Regions from separate parts of the Homo sapiens genome. Here region 2 is linked to region 1. The links come from fine-mapping of genetic effects on plasma protein levels. A gene starts in region 1. The other region holds a variant in brackets. All regions are shown on one strand. Distances are between the middles of the regions.

Region 1 (8,338 bases):
TCAGATGTGCATATTGAAGTTGGGATATGCTTTATAATACTTTAGCAAAAAAAGTGGGGGACATAGTAGGGAGGAGGGTAGGGAAGAATTGTCTATCAACAAATGTTGATAATTGTTGAAGCTGATAACTGTTGAACTCATTAGGGCTGAGGTTGATTATACTATTATCTCTCTTTTTGCATATGTTTAACTTTTCCCACAAGAAAATGTTACAGGAAAAATTATTTAGCTTTCTCCAACCTGGGTTGGTATAAGTCACTGATTGTGACTATCCCAAAAGTTGGTTCAACATTAAGGTAATGTTTGTTAGGAAAAAAAATTAGATCGACACGTTATTTAGTATCCCAGGTTTTTGAGCATTTATTTAAAAAATTCGCTATAATGAGAGATGATTATAAATTTTTGTTATATTTCTGAGATGATCAATTTTAACAGGATTGGTGGTAATTTTTCAATCATAAACTGATAAAGTTTGATGACTGATAAATCGCCCCAATATATAGCAAATCTATTCAATTATTTTGTTTTCATAAGGGAACAACCTTGGTGGAAAGTACAGCTGTCTCCATGTACAAGGAGAAGCACATAGCTCACGTGTGCATCTGGCAGAACCCCCAGTACAGAGACAAGCAGGTGCTGTTTTCCAATGACACCTACTTGTGTGTGTCCTAATACTATAGTTAGAAAATGGCTCAGATTTTTGAGTTGCTTTTCCCAGAACTCAAAGATTGTCTTCCTGTTTATCTTGGTGGAATGCCTATGCTATACTTGTGATTTTTCTGTTCTCTGTAACCTATTAAAACAAGATTGTCACAGATGGGGAAACAAGAGGTCATTAGTTAACAATCAGATGTTCGATTTCTTGAGCAGAAAAGATACTCTGTTGTGTTTTTAAAAACATTTTTAAAGGAGAAATAGGGCTACTCCTTGGAAGGCAGATTGTTGTTCAGTGGGCTTTCCTCAAGAGTCAACACAGTCGTTTCTAAATTCATTTCCTCCTTCAATTCTGTTCTTGTAGTTAACATAAGCTTTGCCTCTTTTAGTTCTTGTCAGTTCACAGTGGCTACTTCTTTATAGCTTAACTAAATACTGCCAGAAGAGCAAAGGGAAGCCAAATAGGTGGTCAATTAGCTTTGTCTAAGTTGGTATGATATGGAGAGGAAAGCACTGTTACTTTAATTCATTCTTCAGTTTCTAGAACAGTTGCTTTTGATTAGGTTAGGGGCAGAAAAACATTTGTAATAATTAATGGCTTTGAGAGACACAAGGCTTTGTTTGCCCCAGAGTATTAGTTAACCCACCTAGTGCTCCTAATCATACAATATTAAGGATTGGGAGGGACATTCATTGCCTCACTCTCTATTTGTTTCACCTTCTGTAAAATTGGTAGAATAATAGTACCCACTTCATAGCATTGTATGATGATTAAATTGGTTAATATTTTTAAAATGCTTAGAACACAGATTGGGCACATAACAGCAAGCACCACATGTGTTTATAAGATAAATTCCTTTGTGTTGCCTTCCGTTAAAGTTTAAATAAGTAAATAAATAAATAAATACTTGCATGACATTTTGAAGTCTCTCTATAACATCTGAGTAAGTGGCGGCTGCGACAATGCTACTGGAGTTCCAGAATCGTGTTGGTGACAAGATTGTTCACCAGCATATGGTGTGGTGAAAACTCACTAATTTGGAATTAGTTCAGATTATTAAGCCTGAATAGGTGAAAATCCTGAAATCAAGGATCTTTGGAACTATTTGAAATCAGTATTTTATATTTTCCTGTTGTATTCATTAAAGTGTTGCAAGTGTTCTATTTGATGGATTAAGTATATTTAGGATATACATGTTCAATTTGTGATTTTGTATACTTAATTGGAACAAGAAAGCTAATAAAGGTTTTGATATGGACATCTATTCTTTTAAGTAAACTTCAATGAAAATATATGAGTAGAGCATATAGAGATGTAAATAATTTGTGGACACACCACAGACTGAAATAGCAAATTTAAAAGAAATTGTTGGAAGAATCAAGTGTTTGTGGAATGAGTCCTCCTAGTAAAGTTCCTGCTCTTGTGAATAATTAAGCCTCATGTATAATTACTATAGCAAAAGGAAGCCTAAGAAGTATTAGACTCTACTTGTATTTAAATTACATTTTACATAATTTATGTGTATGAAAAATGTTTTAAATGCTTATTTTCGTAAGCCATGAGATAGCTCCTTTATATTTTAAGAATTTCTGAATTAATTTGCTTGGATTTTATTAGTGCAAATGGCAGAGCTAGCAATTCCTTTTTCTGTGTTCCCATTCCATCCTATTCATCCCTCTTTTAGGAAACTCTGAACTCTGGATTGTCCTTGTTTACATACCTGCCTCCTGCATTGGACTATGTGTCTCTGAGTGTAGTATGACTAATTCATTTGTTTGTCAAGGACTCTCAATGCATTTGTTGAACAGCCTAATTAGTAATGTCTGCAACAATGACATTTTACTGTATTTAATAAAGCTCTGGGAAAGTAGGATACACATAAGACAGGTCTAGGTCTAAATTCTTTACAGAAACTTGGATTTTTAGTTCGGTTTGAAATTTGAAGATGTGAGTATATTTATCTCAGTTTCCCAAAGGACAAGCTAATTGGAATTATCATCCTCTTTCACTTGATTGGATCCCCAGAATGCCATTTACGCATGCAGCAGGATTTTATAACAGTTTTAAATTCTGTATATTTGATGAAGAGGTTTTATATTTTTGGATTCAAGCCTCTTTTTAAACTTCTACAATATGGTTTACAATAATTCCTTATATCCTGCTTTTGAAATACATATTACAACTTTTTAAGTTTGGAAGGCTATATTTCAAGGACTGAAGTTACAGTATACTCAAGTGATACACAAGCCTAGCACCCCACTTTCCACATAGTGTTCGATAAAGATTGATAAACTCGAAATCACAGACCTTTTAATTCTTAAGACAAATAGCAGCAGAAAGAAACATCTTTGGCTTATTTCTGGTAAGGTTTTTATGCTCTGTAAAACAAAGAATTGTATTCATCCGCGCAGCACAGATTCTATTAAAAATAAATGTGAGAGTCGTTAATGTAGTACTGCTCATTTACCATCAAAATTCACTTTTCAGGAATAATCCCATCAGTTTAAATTGGATATTGGAATGAGCATTGATTACATTTAACTTGGTAGCCCAAAATTTCTTCATGGGGTTTTGAACTCGGCGGGATTTCAAAGGTTTTAAAAATGAGTTTTTGATTTTTTTTAAAACCCTCAAATTTCATTACCTTTAAACTAGGTCGAAACGGGGCGCAAGAGATTGGATTAACACCATAGTAATACTTATTTTGTTCTTAACCATTTCAGGGCTTCTTGAAATAGAGGCTGTATGGTGTAATGGAAAAAACAGCCTTGGAATCTGGGAGCCTGATTCCTGGATTCAGTCCCAGTTTTGCGTGACCTTGGGCAAGTTACTTTACTTCTCTGAATTTCCGTTTCCTCCTCTGCAAAATGAGGATCGCAATAGCCACCTTGCAACCTTGACTGGAGCGAGCCTCGCACACCCCGCGCCGGCCTGGAGGAAGAGCAGCCATGATTACGCCGCCTTCGCTCCGCTACCCGCTTGCGGCTGGCGCCCTCCTCCAGCAGGTGTAGGCGCTGCCGCGCTGCCCCACGCCTTTCCGCCGCTCGCGGGCCTGCGCCTCGGCGTCCCCGAGGAGGCCGCTGCGGGCTGAGGTAGCGCACCGGCCTCTCGGCGTCCCAGTCCGGTCCCGGGCGGAGGGAAAGCGGGCGACCCACCTCCGAGGCAGAAGCCGAGGCCCGGCCCCGCCGAGTGCGGAGGAGCGCAGGCAGCCCCCGCCCCTCGGCCCTCCCCCCGGCCCTCCCGGCCCTCCCTCCGCCCCCTCCGCCCTCGCGCGCCGCCCGCCCGGGTCGCCGCGGGGCCGTGGTGTACGTGCAGAGCGCGCAGAGCGAGTGGCGCCCGTATGCCCTGCGCTCCTCCACAGCCTGGGCCGGGCCGCCCGGGACGCTGAGGCGGCGGCGGCGGCCGAGGGGGCCGGTCTTGCGCTCCCCAGGCCCGCGCGCCTGAGCCCAGGTTGCCATTCGCCGCACAGGCCCTATTCTCTCAGCCCTCGGCGGCGATGAGGCGCTGAGGCGGCTGCCGGCGCTGCGCCGGAGCTTAGGACTCGGAAGCGGCCGGGCCGAGGGCGTGGGGTGCCGGCCTCCCTGAGGCGAGGGTAGCGGGTGCATGGCGCAGTAACGGCCCCTATCTCTCTCCCCGCTCCCCAGCCTCGGGCGAGGCCGTCCGGCCGCTACCCCTCCTGCTCGGCCGCCGCAGTCGCCGTCGCCGCCGCCGCCGCCGCCATGGCCAATGACAGCGGCGGGCCCGGCGGGCCGAGCCCGAGCGAGCGAGACCGGCAGTACTGCGAGCTGTGCGGGAAGATGGAGAACCTGCTGCGCTGCAGCCGCTGCCGCAGCTCCTTCTACTGCTGCAAGGAGCACCAGCGTCAGGACTGGAAGAAGCACAAGCTCGTGTGCCAGGGCAGCGAGGGCGCCCTCGGCCACGGAGTGGGCCCACACCAGCATTCCGGCCCCGCGCCGCCGGCTGCAGTGCCGCCGCCCAGGGCCGGGGCCCGGGAGCCCAGGAAGGCAGCGGCGCGCCGGGACAACGCCTCCGGGGACGCGGCCAAGGGAAAAGTAAAGGCCAAGCCCCCGGCCGACCCAGCGGCGGCCGCGTCGCCGTGTCGTGCGGCCGCCGGCGGCCAGGGCTCGGCGGTGGCTGCCGAAGCCGAGCCCGGCAAGGAGGAGCCGCCGGCCCGCTCATCGCTGTTCCAGGAGAAGGCGAACCTGTACCCCCCAAGCAACACGCCCGGGGATGCGCTGAGCCCCGGCGGCGGCCTGCGGCCCAACGGGCAGACGAAGCCCCTGCCGGCGCTGAAGCTGGCGCTCGAGTACATCGTGCCGTGCATGAACAAGCACGGCATCTGTGTGGTGGACGACTTCCTCGGCAAGGAGACCGGACAGCAGATCGGCGACGAGGTGCGCGCCCTGCACGACACCGGGAAGTTCACGGACGGGCAGCTGGTCAGCCAGAAGAGTGACTCGTCCAAGGACATCCGAGGCGATAAGATCACCTGGATCGAGGGCAAGGAGCCCGGCTGCGAAACCATTGGGCTGCTCATGAGCAGCATGGACGACCTGATACGCCACTGTAACGGGAAGCTGGGCAGCTACAAAATCAATGGCCGGACGAAAGTAAGTGTGTGCTGCGGGTTTGTGCTGGACAGGCCCTTCTCGGCGGGCAGCCCCTGCCTGCGACTGAAACTGCCTAGGCTGAGAAGCAGCATTCCTCTATATAGAAGGGACTCGCTCTTTCTTGTGTAGCTCCCCGTAAGGAAGACGGACAGAATTTGTAGTAGCTGTTTATCTAGTTAGCCCCTTTGTATCCACTGTTTTCCACTTACTGCCCGTTCACAAACTTCTCCGGCTAATTGCATGGTTTTTTGACTCAACGTAGGCGCTTTAACTTTCCTATTTTCTTTTTTCCATTCCACTATTGGTCACAATTCAAACCTTAGTGGCGTTTTAGCCACCCAGTGAAGGGGTGTTAGAGTACCACCCAAAGCAAGTCCTGGTTCTGCATCTGCCTTGTGTTTGCATAAGCTGTTAAATTTCCTATGGTGTCTGAACCACTCATCACATTTCGATTGAGAGTCAAACGCTGTGTTCAGTTAGGAATTTGCCGGCTGACCGCAAAAAGGTACATTTAAAATAAGCATTTAGTCGAAAGACTCTGTATTCAGGAAGAGCTTGGCTACTCCCCTCCCCCTGTTATAGCTCTTATCCCTCACCCTGTTCCTACTGTTTTGAAACCCGTTACAAAAAGGGGAAAGAAGTATTTCCGTCTTCAGGCCTCTCAGTGTAGGTAGGCTACATTTTTAGCACCAGTTTCCTTTATTTGCTTTGTTAATGTAATCCTTCTGTTGAAAACTGTTTTGTAACTTCCTGGAAAACAAAACAAAACAAAACAACAACACGGAATTGGCGCAGGAGGGCTCGTTTTATCCTCCCAATTTGGTGAGATCTTTTTGTTTTCTCTTTACTATTGCGGTTTTTCCTCCACAGATTTCTTCACTTCTTACCTAGTCTATTCCCTCTTTCCTCCCTCATGATAAACAGTAGACTCTTTCGTCCTTAACCAACTCTCTTGCAGCTCTTTTTCATTTTACTTCTCAGATCTTGATCTTTTCTTTGTGGCTGCTCCCAGGCCACCCTCCTCCACCATCAGTCTCTGATTTTGTGGGTTTTGAGAGATTGACCTGGGAGAGCATCACAGTTGCATGTTTGTACACACACGCTGACTCTAACTAGTGGTTTTTCTGTATGTGTGTGTCAGATCATCTACTTTGACAGTCATTACATGTGATTCTCAGGCTGCCCGAAAGACTGAACATAGGCAGTGAGAAAGTTATAAACGTGAACATTTTGTGGGGAAAAATACAATGTGGAGTCTAATTTACCTATTGCCACTTCATTGCTGGATGAAGGCACAAGTCTTAATTTCTTGTAGTCTTAAAAAGGAACAGTTGAATAATATTAAACTGGAAGGAAAAGGGGGATCTGATGAAATTTCAGCGTTGGTCTTTCACTAGATTTTCATTGATAAAATTTTTAAGAAAGTTGTCAGGGCACAACTTTAAGAAATTGTCACATCTGAACATAAAGTCCTGAGCTCCAGAGCAGGAAAGAAATTAGTTTGAGACAATAGGGCTGTGAAGACTGACCAAAGTATATAGTTGGGACATAAGCTTAAATTGGATTCTTGAAGAAGATGATGTCCCAAATCTTTCTTGATCTGCTTTCCTTAGTTAATTTAGCTTTCCAAGTTAAGCTGAGACCTCTTTTCTCTTTTGTCTTCCTGCTTTCACCTGTCCTTAGAGAAGGGACAGCAGACAGCCTGGCTCTTAGAGCAAATGCTTCTCATAGAGATGCTATTAGGAAATAGGTACCTCCTTCCTCAAGAGTTCTAGTTGTTGGGGTTTTAAGTCACGTAACTGTACATATTAGCAGGTAATAAGGGACAGGATGAAGGAGGGATGACCTTTAAACTCTTTGGATTTGATCTGCTTATATTAATTTTAGGGACGCAACTTCAGGATCTATAAATGATATTCAGGAATTCCTTTCATTGTACTTCTTGGCTGAAAGAGGTTTTGGTAATCGTGTTTGAACATGTAATTTATTCCTAAAAAACAAGGGTGTTTGCTTTGTGGAAATGAGAAGGCAATCAAAATAACCACCCACCGTATATTGAGCAACCAACCACAGTGTGTTAGGCATCATATTAGGATCAATACAGATACAATCAGAGTATTTTTTTTTTTTTTTTTGGAGACAGGGTCTTGCTTTGTTGCCCTGGCTGGAGTACAAGGGTGTAAGCATGGCCCACTGCAGCTTCCACCTCCTGGACTCAAGCTATCCTGCCATCTCAGCTTCCGAGTAGCTGGGACTGTAGGCACACACCACCATACTTGGCCAAATGAAAAAAAATTTTTTTTGTAGAGTCAGGGTCTTGCTGATCATTTGATCTCGAACTCCTCGGCTCAGGGGATCCTCCTGCCTTGTCCTCCCAAAGTACTGTGGTTACAGACTTGAACCACCTCACCTGGCCACAATAATCTTAATTCTGTGAAGTGAGTAGTGTTATTCCTAATTTACATTTGAGGGATTTTCAGCTCAGACTTGGCAGAGGTCTACCACTTACTATAACCCTGGCTGGTGTTCAAACTTAAGTCATTCAGATATCAAACCCATGCTCTTTTTTAACTACGCTAGTTATAGGTAGAACATTAAATGAGATGTAGATTATTTAGCACACTGCTGGAACTGCAATTTGATACATATATTTTGTTGAAAGTGGGTGAATAGCACTAGCTTTATATGTGAGTAATCATACTCTATGGTTGGGCTGTGTAAAACTTTTTATTAGGTGACTGTACAATGTTTATTTCAGATAGTGGCTTAAAAGCCACTTTTGTATTTATCCACCTGAATTATGCGCCTGTCAGTATACTGTTAACAGATGTCAGAATATGGTTTTTTTATGTGATTGCAGAGGGAGACTTCAATTCAGAATTTTATCCTTCATAACATTATAGTGATTTTAAAAGTTATATGCAGCAAATGTGTAGTATTTTTCTCATTTCAACTTTCACAGCAGTAGGCAGGTGGTTGTATCCCTTTTTTTATAGATTAGAAAAGTGGGACTCAGGAAAAGTTAGTTCACTTGTTGGAAATTCTGCAGCATATTAGGACTTAAATTCAGGTT
Region 2 (8,338 bases), 67 kb before region 1:
ATTAAAATAAGTTTAATAGTAAAATGATAAAATATTAATAAAGGAATAAAAACTTATAGACATATAAAAATAAAGATCAGGAAAAAAGATGGTAACATACAAGATTTCAACTGATTTTCAGAATCTGCAAAGGGAAGTAAGCGTAACTGTTAGCATGGTAGAGAAAGACACTACTTATATGTACGGAGGAGGTAGTGAACAAGCTGAGAGTTCGTCGATGGCATCCTGCAAAATCACAGAAAGGGTTAAGACTTCAGGCAAAAGTGAAGGTCAGGTGTGGGGCTGAAAATAGGAGGATGGGTTGAAAGTGTGTGTGAAAGACCTGTCGGTTCCCTCCTTTTTACTACCCCCGGACATACCTACAACCATACAGAATTCCTAGGAGGGACACAGAAGGTTTATTCTCTTAGAAATCTTTGTTTGTTTGTTTGTTTGTTTGTTTGTTTGTTTGTTGAGACGGAGTCTCGCTCTGTCGCCAGGCTGGAGTGCAGTGGGGCGATGTCGGCTCACTGCAAGCTCCGCCTCCCGGTTCAAGCGATTCCCCTGCCTCAGCCTCAGATGGGACTACAGGCACACGCCACCACGCCCAGCTAATTTTTTTTGTATTTTTAGTAAAGACGGTGTTTCACCATGTTGGCCAGGATGGTCTCAATCTCTTGACCTTTAATCCGCCTGCCTCGGCCTCCCGAAGTGCTGGGATTACAGGCGTGAGCCACCGCGCCCGGCCGAGAAATCTTAATAGGAACAAATCAAGTCACACAGATGTCAGAATTGATAGTAGAAATACAGTAACAACACACTGAATTTCATTCTCGCCAGATTAGATTACAGTTTAGAGTCATGCTGAATTTAATGTAAAGACTATTAATTCCAATAAATATATAGGCCTACTATGTACACACAAAAATTTAAAATTAAAATCTTAATGGAAACATCTCTAGTGTTTTCTCATTAAATAAGATACTGACTAAAAGACTAGGCTATACATACTATATTGTGTTAAGAAAGTATGTCTCAATTCCTATTTTGAGCGTTTCTTTTTTAAAGTAACGAGTGGTTGTTGACTTTTGTCAAAGACCTTGTCAGCATTGATGGACATAATTATGAGTTTTTCCTTGGATTTTCTAATGTGACATATAGTTGTGACACTTTTATATGCCAATTTGAGTGGGCCACTGGGTGCCCAGATATTTGGTTAAATATAATTCTGGATGTGTCTGCAAAAGTGTTTCCATAAAATATTAGCATTTGAATTGGTAGGCTAAGTAAGTAAAGCTGATGGCCCTCTTCAGTGTGGGTGGGTGTCATCTAATCCGTTGAGAGCCTAAGCAAAACAAAATGGCTTAGAAAGGGAGAATTCACTCTCTCTGCCTGACTGCTTGAGCTGGAAAATTGGTCCCAGGCCTTCAAATTTGGGCTAGAACTTACAGCATAGATTCTCTTGGTTCTCAAGCCTTCAGGCTTAGCCTGGAACTATATCACTGGCTTTCCTCAGTTCCAGCTTGCAGATAGCCAATTATGGGGCTTCTCAGCCTCCACAATCATGGGAGCCAATAACCTATGAAAAATCTCTTTATATATACTGTCATGCATCACTTAATGCTGGGAATATGTTCTGAGAAATGCATTGTTAGGCAATTTTGTCATTGTGCAAACACCATATAGCATACGTACGCCAACCTAGATCGTATAGCCTACTACGCACCTAGGCTATATGGCATAACCTGTTACTCCTAGGCTACAAACCTGTACAACATGTTATTATACTGAATACTGTAGGCAACTGTAACACAAGGGTATTTGTGTATCTAAACATACCTAAACATAGAAAATGTATGGTAAAAATATCATTTATAGGCCGGGCGCGGTGGCTCACGCTTGTAATCCCAGCACTTTGGGAGGCCGAGGCGGGTGGATCACGAGGTCAGGAGATCGAGACCACGGTGAAACCCCGTCTCTACTAAAAATAAAAAAAAAATTAGCTGGGCGTGGTGGCGGGCGCCTGTAGTCCCAGCTACTCGGAGAGGCTGAGGCAGGAGAATGGCGTGAACCCGGGAGGCGGAGCTTGCAGTGAGCCGAGACTGCGCCACTGCACTCCAGCCTGGGTGACAGAGCGAGACTCCGTCTCAAAAAAAAAAAAAAAAAAAAATCATTTATAATCTTATGAGGCCAATGTTGTATGTAATCCATTGTTAATGGAAACATCATTATACAGCACATGACTATATAGATATATGTATTTTATTGGTTCTGCTTCTCTAGAAAACCCTAATACAATAGTATTAATGGAGTTTCTAATATCGAACCAAGTTTGCAGTCCCCAAATAAATCCCACTTAGCAATGGTGTACTATTTTCTTAGTGTGGTTTTAGATTCTATTTGCTAATAATTTACTTAACATTTTTTCATTGATATTCAAAAGTGACATAGATCGGTAGGGTTTTTTTTTCTTTGTACTGTCTTTGTCTGGTTTAGGTACTAACATTATTCCTATTTCATAAAAACAGTTTGGAAATTTTCTTTCATTTTCCATGCTCTGAAATAATTTATAAGCTGTTAGGACCTGGTCTTTCAAAACTTGGTAGAATTCACTCGTGAAAACATCTGGGCCTGGCGTTTTTTTTTTTGCAGGGTGATTTCTTAATAACTGTCTTCATTTCTTCTATGGAAATTGGTTAAATTTTGTAAACCTAACAGAGCTAATTTTGGTAAAATGTATTTCTGTAAGAAATTATGCACTTCATCCAGATTTTCCAATTTATTTGTCTAGAGGTCAGCAAAGTAGTCTCTTCTGACTTTTAAAATTTCTTTTGTTTGAAAGGTTATTTCGCCCTTTTCACTTCTTACTCTACATATTATACTTTCTTTGTTCTTCATCAATTTAGTTAGTAGTTTGCCTATTTTATTTCGTCCCCCAAAAAGCCAAGATTTCAATTTGTTAGAGCTACTGTTTTTCTATTCTTTATTTCACTAATCTCTGCTTTTATCTTTACTGTTTTCTTTTGTTTTAAACTGTTCTAATTGTTTGAACTATAAATTTAATTCATTATTTTTGTCCTTTCACTTTTAGAGAAAAGGTAGTGTAATTAATTTTTCTCTAAGTACTGTTTTAAATACATCCCATAGATTCTAATACGTAGTGTTTTTATTATCTATTATTTGTTTAAAATAATGTATTTCAGCCAGGCACGGTGGCTCATGCCTGTAATCCCAGCACTTTGGGAGGCCGAGGTGGGCCGATCACGAAGTCAGGAGATCGAGACCAGCCTGGCTAACACGGTGAAACCCCGTCTCTACTAAAAATACAAAAAAATTAGCCGGGCGTGGTGGCGGGCGCTTGTAGTCCCAGCTGCTGGGGAGGCTGAGGCAGGAGAATGGCGTGAACTGGGGAGGCAGAGCCAGCAGTGAGCTGAGATCGCACCACTCTACTCCAGCCTGGGCGACAGAGCGAGACTCCATCTCAAAAAAAAATAAGTAAATAAATGTATTTCAGCTTGTATTTCTCATTTCAGCCAAGAGTTATTTAATAAGAAGTTTTTTGTTTTTTTTTTACATTTCCAGGTCTACATTATCTAATATAGATATTGCTACCCCTGCTCCCTCTTTATTTCCATTTGCCTGGTATATGGTTTTTTCATCCTTTTATTCTCACCTACCCTTTCTGAATCTTTTTGTTTTAGGTGTGCCTGCTATCTACTATATAGCTGTGCTTTAGTTTTGTCAGACGAATTGAGAGTCTTTTGGTCTTAATAGGTGAATTAAACCTATTCACATTTATTGCTATGAGTGACATGTTTGGTATTAATCATAACATTTTATTATATTTTGTTATATTTCCTGTGTTTATGAGATTTGTATTCTTTACTATTTTATTTATGGTTTTCTAGAAAAGTTTATATTTTTATCTTAGTGGTTACCTTTGTATTTATATCTTTTTCAGTGCTCTTGGTCCCCCGTTTGTTAATTAACCTTTTGTTGTCTTGTTTATCAGGCTTGCTTTTTTTCCAGTATCTCTTAACATCCCCCTATTACTCCTCAAACAATGAGCTTTTTCTACTTTTCTTTCTCCCTCTTCTTATACTGCCTATTTTTAAGATATATTATTTCTACTTTATCATAATATATAACATTTGTATGCTAGTTTTCCATCCTCATCTCCACCTTTGTTTTAGTTTTATGTATAGTTATAGATTATTAAATGCTTACCATCAGTTCTTTTACTCAAGTTTCTCCTGCCATTACTGGTTGGATGAAAGTTCATTCTCTAATAAATTCCTCAAAAGGATTTATTGATACAGAATTCTCTACATTTTTGTATATTGAGACTGTTTCTCTATAGTCGTCACATTGAGGGGCAATTTAGCTGAAAATAAAGTTCTTAATTCACAATTTATTTGAGTGAGTGCCTTAAAAACTTGTTCCTCAGTTGTTTGACTTTGTATTGTTTTATGAAGTCTGATGCTAGTCTAATTTTCCTCTTTGCATATTTGATCTTGTTACCTGGAGATTTTAAGGACTTCATCTTTGGGTCTATGAATTTTACTAGGATGTGTCTCAGAGTTGATCATTCTGGATGAATTTTCTCATGTACCTAAGTGAGCTCTTTCAATTCATAGATTCAGCTTTTTATTTTTGGAAAGTTTTTTGGATTATAATTTTAAATATTAGTTCTGTTTCATTATTTTATTTGCTTT[T/C]TCAGGGACTTTGATAGTACAAATATTATTACTTGTTGCCTATCTTGAAGTTCCAGTTCCCTACTTTCTCTTTGATACTTTCTAAAGAAAAATTTGCCTTCTGCAAAACTGCACACAAAAAATAATAGACTTATGTGAAAAACAGGATTAAGTCAGGTTGCTAAAGACCAATGCAACTTTATAAATTAGAGCACTAACAAATGTACTTAAATAACAATTATAATGAAAATATCACAATTTAAAGGACACCTTAACTTTCTAAAAATAAAGACATTTTAAGTTGATACAAAAAAGTGAAGCTAGGGACATTTTATAAAATGGCTGGCTTATACTCTTCAAAAATGGCAGGGTCATAAAAGACAAAGGAAGGCTAAGGAGCTTATTCAGATTAGAGGAGACAAAAAACACACAACCAAGAAAAGCAAAAAGAGCTCTCATGCCACAAAAAGACATGGACGAAACCTAAATGCACATTGCATAGGCCAGTCTAAAAAGGCTCTATGGGAGAGAAAGATGTATAAGTGGAGTACGGGGTATTTTCAGGGAGTGAAATTGTTCTGTAATAGTGGATACTTGTCCTTATACCTTTGTCAAAACCCACTGAATATACAACGCAAAGAGTGTATTGTAAACTCTGGACTTTAATTAACAGCAATGTGTCAATATTGGCTCATCAATTGTAACAAATGTGCCACACCAATGCCAGATGTTAATAATAGGACAAACTATGGAGGGGAGACAGGAGAGAGGTATTTGGGAACTCTCTGTTCTTTCTACTCTATTAATTAAAAAAAAAAAAAAAAAAAAAAAAGACCTAACAGCTAAATGCAACATGTAATCCTGGACCAGGAAATACATTTTTTCCTTTGCTGTAAAGGACATTATTGGGACAATCTATTAAATTTGAATAAGGGCTACAGATTAAATAATAATATTGTATTAAAATATGTATAATTATCAATGTATTTTTTCTGATTTTGATCATTTTACTGTAGTTATATAAGAGAATGTTCTTGTTTTTAGGAAATACACAATTAAGGATTAGGGATTAATGGATGTTATGTATGTAAATCATCCAAATAACTCAGAAAAAAACCAATATAGACAGATAAAGATAAAGCAATTGTGGTAACCTGTTAACATTTAGGGAACCTGGGTGAAGAGTACATTAGAACTTTTTGTACTGTTATTGAAACTTTTCTGTCAGCCTGTAATTATTTTAAAAGAAGTTGAAAATTAAATCAGCTTAATAGAAGAGAATATAAGGAAAGTTTGCTGTTGCTGAGTTATGAAGACCAGGTAAAAATGCACAAAAGTCAGGGAAACAATGTAGTAAGCAATTGCAAGACAGACCATATGGTGGGACTCAGCCCAGAGGAAGCGTGTGGGGTAAGCATGCATGGCTGACTCATCTGTGTTCATGGACTTTGCATTCAGCTGCTATTATACAGTGACACACAATGTTAATCTGTAAGGAGAAAACTTAAATATGAACCAATGCCACTTCTGTGTTCATGGATAACATATCCTTGTTTACCAATTGCATATGGGCTAATTAGCCTTGCAGAAACAGATATGTAGCATTGAGACTGTATTTGTATTCCCATTTTGCAGATCCCAAACTAAGGCTTAGAGGGGATGAGAAACTTTACCCAAGCCATATTGTTGCTAAGCAGCCAAGGTGGTTGTGGAAGAGATGACAATGTTCACCGTAGACTCATGCTTGCTTCCGTAGTGTGGAGCTATTGCTGAGAAGGGGTTCGCTCTCCAGAAACTGCATAAGCCAGGCTCCTTTGCATCTCAGGGAAGCCCTGTGACTAAGTTCTGTCTAATAGCATACAAAGAAGTGATGCACACCTCGGCTAGAACTGGCCCACAAAAATACCTTCACGATTTCCCAGGTGTTCTCTCTCTTGTAATCTACTAGCTGAATGGAGAGAACACCAAGGACCTAGAGGAGGGTGGGAGCCACAATGTCCTAGGGGTATGAGTCCTTGAATGACCACATGGAAAGCCACCTAACCAAGAACATTATACTCTGAAAATTTGAGATTTTTTTTTTTCTTTTGAGATGGAGTGTCACTCTGTTGCCCAGGCTGGAGTGCAATGGCACGATCTTGGCTCACTGCAACCTCCGCCTCCTGGGTTCAAGCGATTCTCCTCCTGCCTCAGCCTCTCGAGTAGCTGGGATTACAGACATCCGCCACCACGCCTGGCTAATTTTTGTATTTTTAGTAGAGACAGGGTTTCACCATGTTGGCCAGGCTGGTCTTGAACTCCTGACCTCAGGTAATCTGCCATCCCCAGCCTCCTAAAGTGCTGGGATTACAGGCGTGACCCACCACAGCCAGCCTGAGATTTATTTTCAATAGCGCTAACATTAACAAATAAAATACACTGGTGCTGGTCCTTGAAGCTGTGTCAGACTAACTCAAAGAGCCATATTTCCAGCAGCAATCCTATACTGTCTCCAACAATAAAAGCCCAAAGTAAAAATTTATGAAAAAAAAAAAGTGTCTGATTCACTGGGACAATAAGAATGTACAGAATCAGGTTTCACATTTTACTTAATTGTACTCTCCCTGGAAGCCTGAATGTCTGTGTGTCTCCACAACGCATGTGTGCCATTCCATATATCCTGGAAGTGGGAACTCTAAGTCCTTCAGCTTACCTAAGAAATGACTTTGTCCAAGATCCTCCTGTTCACATTTGATCCTATGGTCACAGGCTCAAGCCTAACTCCTAGACTCCAGTTTCACAGCATCAGCCCCGAACATCCTGGGCAGGAACTCACTAGGGAGGATGCTCTGAGAACCTCAAGCTGTCTCTCCCATGTCACTCAACCCCTCCCAGCAGCCACCTAGGTAATAACTGGTTGGCAATTCTTATTTAATCACATTTCTTAAGCCACCCTCCTGAGCCAGTCTCTGAAAACCTGCCCTTTCAGATGCCATAACATGGATTGTTTTATTACAAAAGTAAGCCTGTTCGATGCATTTTACCCAGTCAGCTGTGGTTAAGAGGTTTAACTTTTGTAGATGCCTTGAATCATTAAAAACGACATCATCTCAGGCTTTGAGCCAAAGTACCGTAAAACCCAAATCTTCATAATGAGAATTACTATAACATTGTCGGCAGATCAAACTTCTCTATAGTTTGCTTGTTCATAAAGCTGCATTAGCTCTTTAGCAAGCAAGACACGTACATCCCTATTCTCCAGTGAAATAATAACAACACATATCTCATAAGGCTCAGTACAAAAATAAAAATAATGGCAATAATTGTTAACAGTTATTGAGTGCTCTCAATAATAACATTTCAAGAATTAGAAGCCACAAAGAGTAGTGGGAAAGGTCCCAACCATGAGTCAAACCTTCTGCAATCTAATCTCTATTTTACTTTAAACAGCAATGTGACCTTGGGCAAATCACGTAAGCTTCAAATTCCACATCTGTAAAATGAGAATATATAAGCTGCCTTTAATATAAGGTTGCTGTGGAAGATCAAATGAGAGATTCTGGTAAGTTGTAAAGCATACCATTTTGGCCTGGGGCCTACACAGAGGTAATCTTTTGATGGTTGTGCCCTTTGTTGTTCATGGCACGTTACGGATTAGAAAATATTTGACTAAACAAATAAAATAA

Alleles and levels. Positions count from the first base shown, and alleles are read on the strand shown. Strength reflects both the effect of a copy and how common the allele is.
In carriers of allele C in region 2, the plasma level of the protein whose gene starts at base 3,976 in region 1 tends to be higher than with T alone (moderate association).

Evidence for each region. A credible set is the group of variants that fine-mapping cannot tell apart. PIP is the posterior inclusion probability: the model's chance that the variant is causal. Protein levels are from antibody-based Olink assays in UK Biobank. Linkage for the fine-mapping came from a reference panel and not from the study's own genotypes, which makes the PIPs less certain.
Region 2: its variant is the best candidate, but not a certain one, in a credible set for the plasma level of the EGLN1 protein (UK Biobank, PIP 0.65).

What each region holds. Positions count from the first base shown.
Region 1 is chr1:231,417,925-231,426,262 of GRCh38, reverse strand. EGLN1 (egl-9 family hypoxia inducible factor 1) reads left to right here and starts at 3,976. Exons shown (of 5, transcript NM_022051.3): 1 at 3,976-5,265. The coding sequence starts at 4,375. RefSeq lists silencers at 3,511-3,835, 3,591-4,770 and an enhancer at 5,151-5,420.
Region 2 is chr1:231,484,980-231,493,317 of GRCh38, reverse strand. No RefSeq gene overlaps it. Among named protein-coding and RNA genes, the nearest start is that of TSNAX-DT, 39 kb to the left of the region's middle. The variant T/C (reference allele first, on the strand shown) is at 4,695.